Linked DNA regions of Homo sapiens: region 2 is linked to region 1. The links come from fine-mapping of genetic effects on gene expression. A gene starts in region 1. The other region holds a variant in brackets. All regions are shown on one strand. Distances are from middle to middle. Region 1 holds the start of RBM46 (RNA binding motif protein 46). Region 2 holds the start of LOC124900169 (a long non-coding RNA gene).

What was found. PIP is the estimated chance that this variant, and not a neighbour inherited with it, causes the effect.
Region 2: its variant is fine-mapped to the expression of RBM46 in tibial nerve (GTEx, PIP above 0.99).

Annotation. Positions count from the first base shown.
Region 1 is chr4:154,778,369-154,783,748 of GRCh38, forward strand. It overlaps RBM46 (RNA binding motif protein 46), which reads left to right and starts at 2,904. Exons shown (of 5, transcript NM_144979.5): 1 at 2,904-3,068. It overlaps LOC105377500 (a long non-coding RNA gene), which reads right to left and starts at 3,505. Exons shown (of 4, transcript NR_188451.1): 1 at 3,421-3,505.
Region 2 is chr4:154,624,062-154,629,441 of GRCh38, forward strand. LOC124900169 (a long non-coding RNA gene) reads left to right here and starts at 2,901. Exons shown (of 6, transcript XR_007058343.1): 1 at 2,901-3,088. RefSeq lists a silencer at 2,728-2,857. The variant C/A (reference allele first, on the strand shown) is at 2,947.

The DNA.
Region 1 (5,380 bases):
GTTCCTGAGCGATGTGCTGTAGATCATTAATTCTATAAACATGCAAGTAGCTGCCATGTTTTTGGTGGATCTGTGTCATATCACTGCCACAGTGATAAAGGAAGCTGAAGAAGCTCCAACACATGGAAAATAAACCAGATCACTGCACAGGCTCATTTATATGGAACAGAGGACTAAGTTGGATGTTAAACATTTTAAAGATTTCCCATTGCTTCTCTTTCCTTTGTCAGGGGGTGTATTTTGCAGAATGTATATGAAAATAACTTCTAAGTGATATAAAAGCTTGCATCTTAACTTCTAAGTGATATAAAAGCTTGCATTTTATATGGGGAAAATACATGTATTCAGACTATTTTTAACCACTTGAATTTTGCATCTCTTCCTTTTTTTTTTTTTTTTTTTTGAGACAGGGTTTCGCTCTGTCATCCAGGCTGGAGTGCTGTGGCACGGTCATAGCTCACTGCAGCCTCAAACTCCTGGGCTTAAGTGATCCTCTTGTCTCAGCCTAACTCAAAGTAGTTAGGACTACAGGTGTGTGCCACCACACCCGGCTCCTTCCAATTTTTTATTGATAACTTTTACTTCCCATGTCACACAGTCACTATTATTTCTCTTTCTGGTGTTTGCAGAGATCCCCTTCTATTTTCTCCCTTGTATGCCAAGTATCTTTCGACACTTCTTTTTAGTCACAAACACCTTTACATTGCTTATCATCTTCCTTCTTACTCATTTGGGTCACCTTTTCCCATAAGCTCAAATAATCTTAAAACAAATCCAATTTGGAATCTGTTACTGAAGAATTCTAGCTGATAAAAGTGTTTTGGATCTCTTTCTCTGGGAGCCTTGAGAAATAAAGTTAAAGGTCATTTCTTTAATTGTACATGCAGACAATAGTTTTTATAGCATTTGAAAAGTATACCTATTAATAAACTTTAGGATAATAAAAACTTAGACAAAATCTAACCAAAATGACATACAATGTTAAGTATGGGAAGGGTCTTTAAACAACACTGTCTCATCTATGGCAAGGTTCTATGGTCTGACTGTAATGCCTATTGAGAAGCCCTTGTCTATTTGGTTTTCTTTATACTTGGGGAGAAAAAAGACAAAAAGGGAAACAAGAAAACCAGCAATGTTCAACAACCTTCCAGGCTATTTCCAAGAACAATCTTTGTACCTCACAACATCTCCACCTAGTGACTCCTTAAGGATCTTACAGCCATTCCTAGAAATTACTTGTTTTAAATTGCCACTAATATGCCTAACCTCATTTCAGATAATTTAACCTTAAACACATGTATTTAGAATTAATTACTAGGAATTGAGAAGGTACCGACATGAAAATGAAGAATGAGGAGAATCTTTTTCTGGAGAAATAAAAGAGCAGCAAAAAATAGTAATCAATATAACAATCACAGTTCCCGAGGTACAGAATTGGTGACATGTCAAACAAAGCCAACTAGATCTATCAGTCTAGGTTTTCTAGTTGCTTTATTTTGAATGCATACATCTTATATAAAATGACACTTGTATTCATTGACTAAAGGGCAGACGGCTTACAAAAAATATTTGTTGAGCTTCCAGTGTGCATCAAGTACTATGCCAAGTTTTCTACTTGTTTCTGGACGTATTTTGAGACAGTATAGTATAGCAATTATGTCTGTAGGTTTCAAACTGGAGCCACTTACTTGCTATATGACTTTGCCCAAACTACTTAAGGTTTCTGCATCTGTTTCCCCGTCTGCAAAGTAGGGCTAGTAACTTTACCAAAGTTACTGTGAGAATTAAATGAAAATATGAAAAGTCCTTAGGATTGTTTCTGGCATCTGGCTCAATATTTGGTAATATCATATATTATTTTATTCTCACAATCCCCACTTTAAACAGGGTCTGTCTGGCTCCAAAGTCCCTGCTAATTCCTCACTGTTGTAGTATATTTAAAAATTAAAAATATACTTTAACAAAATTTAAATTGGTAGACATTCATTAGTTCCTTGAATATATGGAGAAAATACATTAGGAGTTAATGTGGAAGAAATCACCTTGAGGTTGGGAATAAGGAGATCTGTGTTACTCGGTGAATATTCTGGGCATGAAGTTCCTTGTTAATTAGAGAATCAACATGAGCTAGGTTCTTTATTGTCTAATATTCCATGAATCTAATATTATCTATACATAAATAGTTGGTTCCTAAAGGTGGTTTTTTCTTTCCTTGTCTGCATTTAATTTCGAGCTGTCTTCAAAGGAAGCAAAACTGAAGTTATGCATACCGAATGCCAAACAACCCTATCTGTGAAAGTTGGTTTTACAAGAGCATAGAACCCAGTTCGGCAGTTCGCCTCTGCCAAATGTCCCTGCAAGCTGATTAGTGGTAGCGTCAAGCCTATCGCTAGTTCTCCTCATCTAACCCATTTTCTTAGTCATTGTCATTTAAACCACTTATACTTTATACTTCTAGTCCTATTTGCAAATCCATCTTTTAGCTTTATAACCCACCTCCCCCTAGCCCTTAATTTCAAAGGTCCACCGGATATATGTGGTTGTTTTGCGCCAAACTAGCAGTTTACAAGAAAACTACATCAAACAAGAAAAAGAACCATTACGATGCATCTATGTTTTCCCTTAAGTGCGGAATTTCACACTGCAGCCCTCGTCTTCAAACACCTAAACAATGCACCTAGGACCTTCATTTATTATTCCGTGCCCACCCACACCCTAAAAATCGCTCTCTTCACCCCAATTGCTCGAAATGCCTGTCACTCCAAGCACTTTGACTAGCCCAAGAGCCTCATTTAAACTTTAGCCCCACTCTCTCCTCCTCGCCCCGCCCCGAAGCTAATCCCTGATTGGATGAGGCACCACTCCTCGTGGGGCTGCTTAGGCCACCGCGCGCGCTGCGCGCTGGGAAACGAGTGGAGACACGAGGACCAGCGCGAGCGGTCCCGGTGGGCTACCCTCCCCCTGCGACGACCCCCCCTCGCTCTGACCGACTGGTCCCCTAAACGGTGGCGGCGGTTTTTGGTCGTTGGGCCCCGGGATTTAGGACCAACATTTGAAGACCCGAAGGGGTGAGGAGGGGAAAGGGGAAACGGGGTCACTACCAGACCACTGCTAACGGCTGGATAGTGCCCGGCTCACTCTCACGCCGAATACACAGTGGGGGCTGGCGGCGGTGGCTGCGGGGTTCACCCTCGTCCTTCCCCAGCCCCGTCGAGCAGTGGGAGGGCAAGTGTCCGAGACGCTGCTTCCTGCCCCGGCAGCATCCGGCCAGAAGGCGCCCTCGCCGTCACCCAGGCGCTGCATGGTGAGGGCCCAGCGGCCAGTCTCTTTGGGGCGTCTGGCGGCCTCTTCCGCCCCGCGGCGCCCTGCGCTCTCCGCCTTATTTCCGCTCTCCCCCGCTGCCTTCCGGCCGCTTCCCACCTGTGCTGCATTTCGTGTTATTTTCCTGACACGCTTACGCCGACGACCAACGACCGCTGCAGGCCCGGGCCGCTGCCTGGCCGTTGTAGGGTCCGCGCGTCCCCTGGAGGCTTTGGACGCCGTCTGGGGCGTCCCGACGGCTGGGTGAGATTCAGCAGTCTGGTTTCAGAATTGAATTCAGGCTGGGTGAGCTTTAGCGGGCTCCTAGTCGTTTGCGTGGAGTTCTAGCCGGGACTGAGCCTCGAACTTTACTTTGCCTTTGTCTCCCTGTTTCTTCCCCGAGTACCTCGTGTGTGCTGGGCTGTGGGCAGTGGGAGGCCGCGGGTGCACAGGGAAGATAGCTCGCCTCTCCCCCGACACACGGACGGCAGCACACGTCGTGGCACCGCCTTTGTTTCCTAACATCTGGTAGTTTTTAAACCCCTAATTTAAAAATGTTTCTTTGGAGCTGCTGGAAAAACCACAGAACCAGCGGCATTTAATCCTGGCGTTGATATTCTGAGATATTGCGAAGCTGCTTGATTTATTTGGGCACCAGTTTTCTCCTATGTAAATTTAGCTTAGGTAATATTTAAGTTCTTTAAGCTTTAACTGTCTTTACATTCTTGATAAATTCCCCGTAACCTTTATGTTATGTGGTAATCCTAATATAGGCAAATATCAAAGAGGAAATATCATAAGGAGTTTTTTTGTTTTGTTTTTTGTTTTGTTTTGAGACGGAGTCTCGCTCTGTCTCCCAGGCGGGAGAGCAGTGGCAGGATCTCGGCTGACTGCAACTTCCGCCTACCGGGTTCAAGCGATTCTCCTGCCTCAAACTCTCGGGAGTAGCTGGGACTACAGGCGCGCGCCACCACGCACAGCTGATTTTTGTATTAGTAGAGACAGGGTTTCACCATGTTGGCCAGGATGGTCTCGATCTCTGGACCTCATGATCCACCCGCTTCGGCCTCCCCAAGTGCTGGGATTACAGGCGTGAGCCATCGCCGCCGAGCTTTTTAAGTCTTGGCTTCTCTTAAAAATTGGCCTGATTTTGTGTTTGAGAATGGCGTTATAACCAGGAAGCAGGATATGTTGCGTGTATAAGGAGAATAACATATAAAGGACATGTTCAAGGGTCTGTAGAATTTTGCTTATTTAAATAATGGGAAGATATTTTCGTTTCAAGAATCACCACGATGTATATACAGTTTGACAGACTTCCATTTGGATCTTTTCAGAATTGAATCTCCTTATGGGGGTCTAATAATAGACTTGTTTTCAGGGCACACGTTTAAAACATTCTACTTTAAACTTTGTTTGCATCTGTCTGCATTTGTTTGCATTGTTAATAAAATTTGTTTGCATCTTTATAGACATAAAGATGACAGTGCTGCCTGCAATCACTAAATATTAATGCTTTCTGCTTAAGGCACTGCTTTGATTGCTGATTTTCACTTAAGAGGTTGGAGTAATGTACTTGAATATTATTGCCAAATATAATACATATCAACACTTAAAATATATGCATTACTGGATATATTATGAAACAAGAATTATTAATAACGAGAACAAACCCAGTTTATGGACTGAAATTAAGTCTCAGGTTTAATGGTGTTATTTTATTGTTAGGAGAAGGAAGACATGTCAGTTTAAGTAGAGTTTGTGACTACAAATCAAGTAATTGCTGTAAAAATTGTCCAGATTTGCATATTAATGCCGAATGTTATTTCTCATTTTACTACCCGATGATTGATGAGGCAAGAAAATGTGATCTCTATGTTCAAATTGGTAACAGATTTAAAATAACAGATTATGAAGGACCTTGTGTAAGGAATGGTGTACTTAATTTGGACAAGAATATGTAGATATCTTTATCCTGAATTCAAACAGCATATACACCTTTGTGTTCAAAGCAGTATTTTTTAAAAGTATTAGTTACAGTTTTTTTAAATAGTTCAATTTTTAAGTCATTCAGAATTTA
Region 2 (5,380 bases), 150 kb before region 1:
GCAGAAAGCAACATTATTTCCTCTAAAAGGGCAAAGATTACTTGGCGATACTGGTGCCTCTAGTCGTCCCTTCCCAAAGCGTCCAGGAGAACTGGTCACAGAAGGGATGAGAGCGCACCATGTGCCACACCATGTGCCACACCATGTGCCCCACTGTGGAGGCTTTTTTTTTATGCCTTGGCCTCCTAAGGGAACAGTTGTTTCAGCTGTAGGTAATACAGCGGGACCTTAGTCTGGCCCTGAGTTTGGCGAAGGGCTCTTTATGCTCTTGGCATTGCTAGTAGAGTGCAGGAAGGGAGGAGCTGCTTAAACAGACAGTTCAGCTCAACGTCAGGCCTTGACTCTCAGGGACTCAGCCTGAAACCCAGGTGGATCATTCAGGGTACTCTAGAGGGACAGGACTAATAGGATAGATGTATATATGATGTATATATGAAAGGGAGTTTATTAAGGAGAACTGACTCTCATAATCACAAGGTGAAGTCCCACAATAGGCCATCTGCAAGCTGAGGAGCAAGGAAGTCAGTCTGAGTCCCAAAGCCTCAAAAGTAGGGAAGCCGAAAGTGCAGCCTTCAGTCTGTGGCCTAAGGCCTGAGAGCCCCGGCAAACCACTGGTGTAAGTCCAAGAGTCCAAAAGCTGAAGAACTTGGAGTCCGATGCTCTAGGGCAGGAAGCATCCAATACGGGAGAAATATGAAGGCCAGAAGACTCAGCCATTCTATTCCTTCCACATTCCTCTGCCTGCTTTCATCCTAGCTGCGCTGGCAGCTGATTGGATGGTGCCCACCTACATTGAGGGTGGGTCTGCCTTGCCCAGTCCACTGACTCAAATGTTAATCTCCTTTGGCAACACCCTCGCAGACACACCCAGGATCAATGCTTTGCATCCTTCAATCTAATCAAGGGGCTGGATTTGTTTAACCATCACACAAGGGGCTGTTTTTGTTTTTGTTATTGTTTAAGAGATGAGCTCTCCCTCTGCCGCCCAGGCTGCTGTGCTGTGGCACAATTAAAGCTCACTGCAGCTTAAAACTCCTGTTCTCAAGCAATCCTCCCACCTCAGCCTCCCATGTAGCTGGGACTACAGGCATGCATCACCACGCCCAGCTAATTTTTTAAATTTTTTAGTTTTGTAGAGATAGGGTCTCACAATGTTGTCCTGTTAGTTGCCTAGATTGGTTTCAAATTCCTGGCCTCAAGCAATCCTTGGACTCCCCAAATGCTGAGATTATAGGCAAAAGCCACCAAGCCCAGCTGGGCTCACTAATTGAAGGTTATGAAAGCATCACACCCTTTTTAGGCAATCCCTTCTCCCTCTGTATGGCTGAATGTAGGAAAAAAGTATCTCCCTCCCATGGTTAGTTAAGGATCAGACTCACTTGTTCTAATCTTGCCTGTACAAGTTAGTAGCTCTGTGTTCCTGGACTATTAGTTAGCCTCTCTGTGCCTGTTTCCTTTTATCAGACTGACTTCCTTGCTCCTCAGCTTGCAGATGGCCTATTGTGGGACTCACCTTGTGATTATGAGAGTCAATTCTCCTTAATAAACTCCCTTTCATATATACATCATATATACATCTATCCTATTAGTCCTGTCCCTCTAGAGTACCCTGAATGATCCACCAGGCTGTCGGGGCTTAAATTCCAGCTTTATAACTTACTTCTAGCTGTGTGACCTTAGGAAATGTTCCTGCTTCTTTGTCTCAATTTCCTCAATTGTAAAAAGGGAATAATATTATTACCCATCTTATAGGGTTGTTTTGTCTAATGTGTTAATAAATGTAAACATTTAAAACATTACATAAGAGCTGATTTTACTATTATTATAAAAAAGCTCTTAAAACAGTTTCTGGTCAGCATTAAGAACTCAATAATTGTTAATGGTTAATATTAGTCATGTAACTACCCAGATAATCCATAAACTGTATTAGTCATCCTGTTAAGAAGCAAGGCCTGGTTTGTCTTCTTCCTTTTATTATACAATTTTACTGCTTCTAATTTAAACTCTTGCCTCCCTAAGTTCAATCCAGGAAGAGAGTCAGGATTAAAGGACTAGAAGGAAAGACAAGAGTGCTGATGGAAACAAAACTACTCAAATATAGGTGTTAAAGAGAGAGAAAGAGACAGAGAGGGAGACAGAGAGAGAGAGAGAGAGAGAGAGAGAGACTTTGTCAGCTAAAAATTAACTAGACTGTCAGCTCCTGCGTCTTCTGCATCCCTCTCAGAACCTGGAAAAAAATATTTGCAGTGGTCCTGATGTCCGCAGCAGGCCTTGCTCCGATGGTTTTGCAGAGTAGCAAGTGAAGATTTCCAAAAGGCGGAAGAGCGGGATAAGAGAAGAAAAAGAGATAGATAAGCTAGCACAGGAACAAGGCTCAGAGCAGGAAAGTTACCAGGACAGAACAGGGAGGGACTGACTGTCACAGGGCAGGGAGCAGGAGGAAAGAAGCCACTTTTCAGTGAAAGGTATTTGTAATTACAAGAAAGCCAGGTTCTTCAGGGCCCTGGAGAAACAGAAATACAATTCCCTGGCTTCTGGGGAGAGCACTTAGGGGCTCCTATATCCTCATCCCTTTGGATTTTCCCTTCTCAAACGCCAGAATTTGGAAAAGGGTGGGGAGGGTCTTTAAATTATTTGGCACAAACTCCGAAAAAGTGGAGAGGCTGTGAGCCAGCCACCCTCCGACTAGGTTTTGTGGTGATGGTTGCTGAAATCACTTGCGCACAGGATGACAGGAGCTGGGAACCTCAAGGTAGGTGAGCCTGCCAAGACGCGGGTCCGGGACTCGGCTGGGGCGCAGATGGAGCCCGCCCGGTAGGGGGTGTGCGGAGCCCTGTTTTCTGGGCTCCGGCCCCCAGCCCAGCCCAGCCGCCGCAGGAGCGCTCGGCCAGTAGGTGTCTCTGCTCCTCGGGCGGCCTTGAGCAGTGCCTAACGTTGAGCGTGAGG[C/A]TCGTGCTCCGGGTCTCGCGGGCGGCCGCCTCGGGCGTCGAGTCCCGGAGATTGGACAGACACCAGAGCCTGGGGACCGCGGAGTGACCGGGTGGGGCTGGAGGGCGGCGCCGCGCCTTCTGGGGAGACGCGGAGGTATCAGGTAATCCCCCGGCGGCCTGCGCCAGGCAGTCATGCCCACCCGAGCCCTGGGACCTTTTTCACCTCCTCTTTCCAGGGAGGAAAGGCGGCAAGGGAGGCGCGAGGAGTTAGTTGCAGCCCTGGAGGCAGACACTGAACTCCAAGATAATGCCACTTGGACTCTGAAAGTGGGCTCTTCTCTACCACGCGATCCAGCTTAGCTTTTACCTTTTCTCTAGAGGTAGAGAGGGCCGGGTGCCAACTCCTTGCTCAACTTCTCACTGGAAAAGTGGCTGCCTTCCTCCGTCTCCCTCCCCTGGGCTCCGGCCAGGGGAGCAAGGCCTGCTGTGGACATGAGGAACTCCCTGCCCTGTCCTGGTAACTTTCCTATTCTGCACCTTCGCTTTGCTAGCTTGTCTACCTCCTTCTTTTCGCTAGCTTATCTACCTCCTTCTCTTCTTCGCTCTTCCTCCCACTGGAAATCTTCACTTCCTAGTCCGCAAAACCGTCCAGCGGAGGTTTGCAACAGAGTCGGCTCTTGGAATCATAGCCCTCTTAGGTTGGTGGTGGTTGTGGATTAGAGGGCAGCAGTAGGGACGATTAAAAGTAGTTTTTAATACTTAAATGGTTTAGGGCTTTCCTGTGCCTTTGTTCTGCCTAAACATTAGTTTGATTTACTAAAATCCTCTCCTACCCCATTTCTGGCATTTGGTAAAGAAACCAAGTGAAGGTAATCAGGCCTCGGGTATTTATGTATGTAGAAATCATCTAGCAAAATAGAACGAATAGATCATTTCTTTTGAGGGGCCGTAAACTTTTTTGTATGTTGAAGTGTGTTTTGATACTTGGGTGTTCCCTTGTTGCTGTGGCTGCCTGTTTCATTTGATTTGAGGGCCTTTGAGCATTGTCTGTCATTGACATTCTACTACTGAAGTTTATTCCTTTTGTTTAAAGTCTTAATATTCTTTTCCAGTCCCCCTAATGAATCACGGTTACCATGAGAAGGATGACCTCATGTTATTGAAGAAAAGTCCTGGTCTGAGATTCAGGAAACAAGATTCAGATGGCTTGTGTCCAGTGTTTAGTTCTGGACCCATTTCTGGGGCTAAGTGGCTATGTGATTTTGGTTGTTCAATTTATTTAACTTCTCAGAACCTTGGTTTTCTCATTTCAGGGAATCTGGGACCAATAACCCCCATCCATTGTTATATGACTGCTAAATTCAGTCTTCAATTCTTGGCTGTCTTCTTCCTTGATTACCAGTGGCATTTAACCAAAGTGATCATTGTCTCCTTGAAATACTTTCTACTTGAAGTCTCATGAGGTCTTCCTCCTTCCTCCTTGCCCACTACTTCTCAGTCTCCTTGACTGGTTCCTCCTCAACCCTAAAAGCTAAAGTTTGATGTGTACTAGGCCTCTTCTCTGACTCCATCCTCTCTAAGTGCTCTCCATCTATGACATTTAACATCACCATCTTGGAAGAATCCCACACTTATGCCTCCAACATGGACTTGTCCTCCTCTAAAATCCATACTCAGGTATCCAGCTGCCTTCTTGACATCTTCATAGGCATCTCAAAAGTAACATGTTCAAAACAGAACTCCTGATCTTTACCCCAAATCTGATTCTTCCCAAGTCTTGTTCACCTCATTAAATGGAATCCCTATCTTTCCATGCTCGAGCCAAAATCTTTGCAGTCAAACTTGATGTCTACCATCAGCCTAGTCCACACCTGCATCTCTCTAGTTGATCTATATCAATAGCCTCTGATCTAGTCATCCTAGTTGCTCTCTTGCACTCCCAAAGTTTTTTTTCTGCACACAGCTGCAAGAGTACCTATGCAGGAGAATCATATCCCTCATTGGATGAAAACTTCCCAATGGTTTATCTCATTTAGAGATCTACAAAACTGATTTAGTTTCCTCTTCTTTTCTGGTCTTATCTATTTCTACTCTCCCTTTTGCTCACCAACACTGCAGGCACGTTGGTTTCCCAGTTATGACTACAATATGCCAAGCACATCCCTGTCTTGGGAACTTTGCACATACTTGCCCCTCGGTGTGGAACACTCTTTCCCCAGACAGTGCATGGCAAGCACTTCACTTCCTTCAGGTCTCTACTCATTCAAATATTATCATATCAAAGACGCTGTCCCCTGACCACTCTACATCCAGTAGCCACAATTCTATGGGATTCCTCTTGGTATTATTCTTTTAACTGAGACAGGGTCTTGCTTTGTCACCCAGGCTGGAGTGCAATAGCATGAACATAGTTCAAGGCAGCCTCAAACTCCTGTCTAAAGCAATCCTCCTGC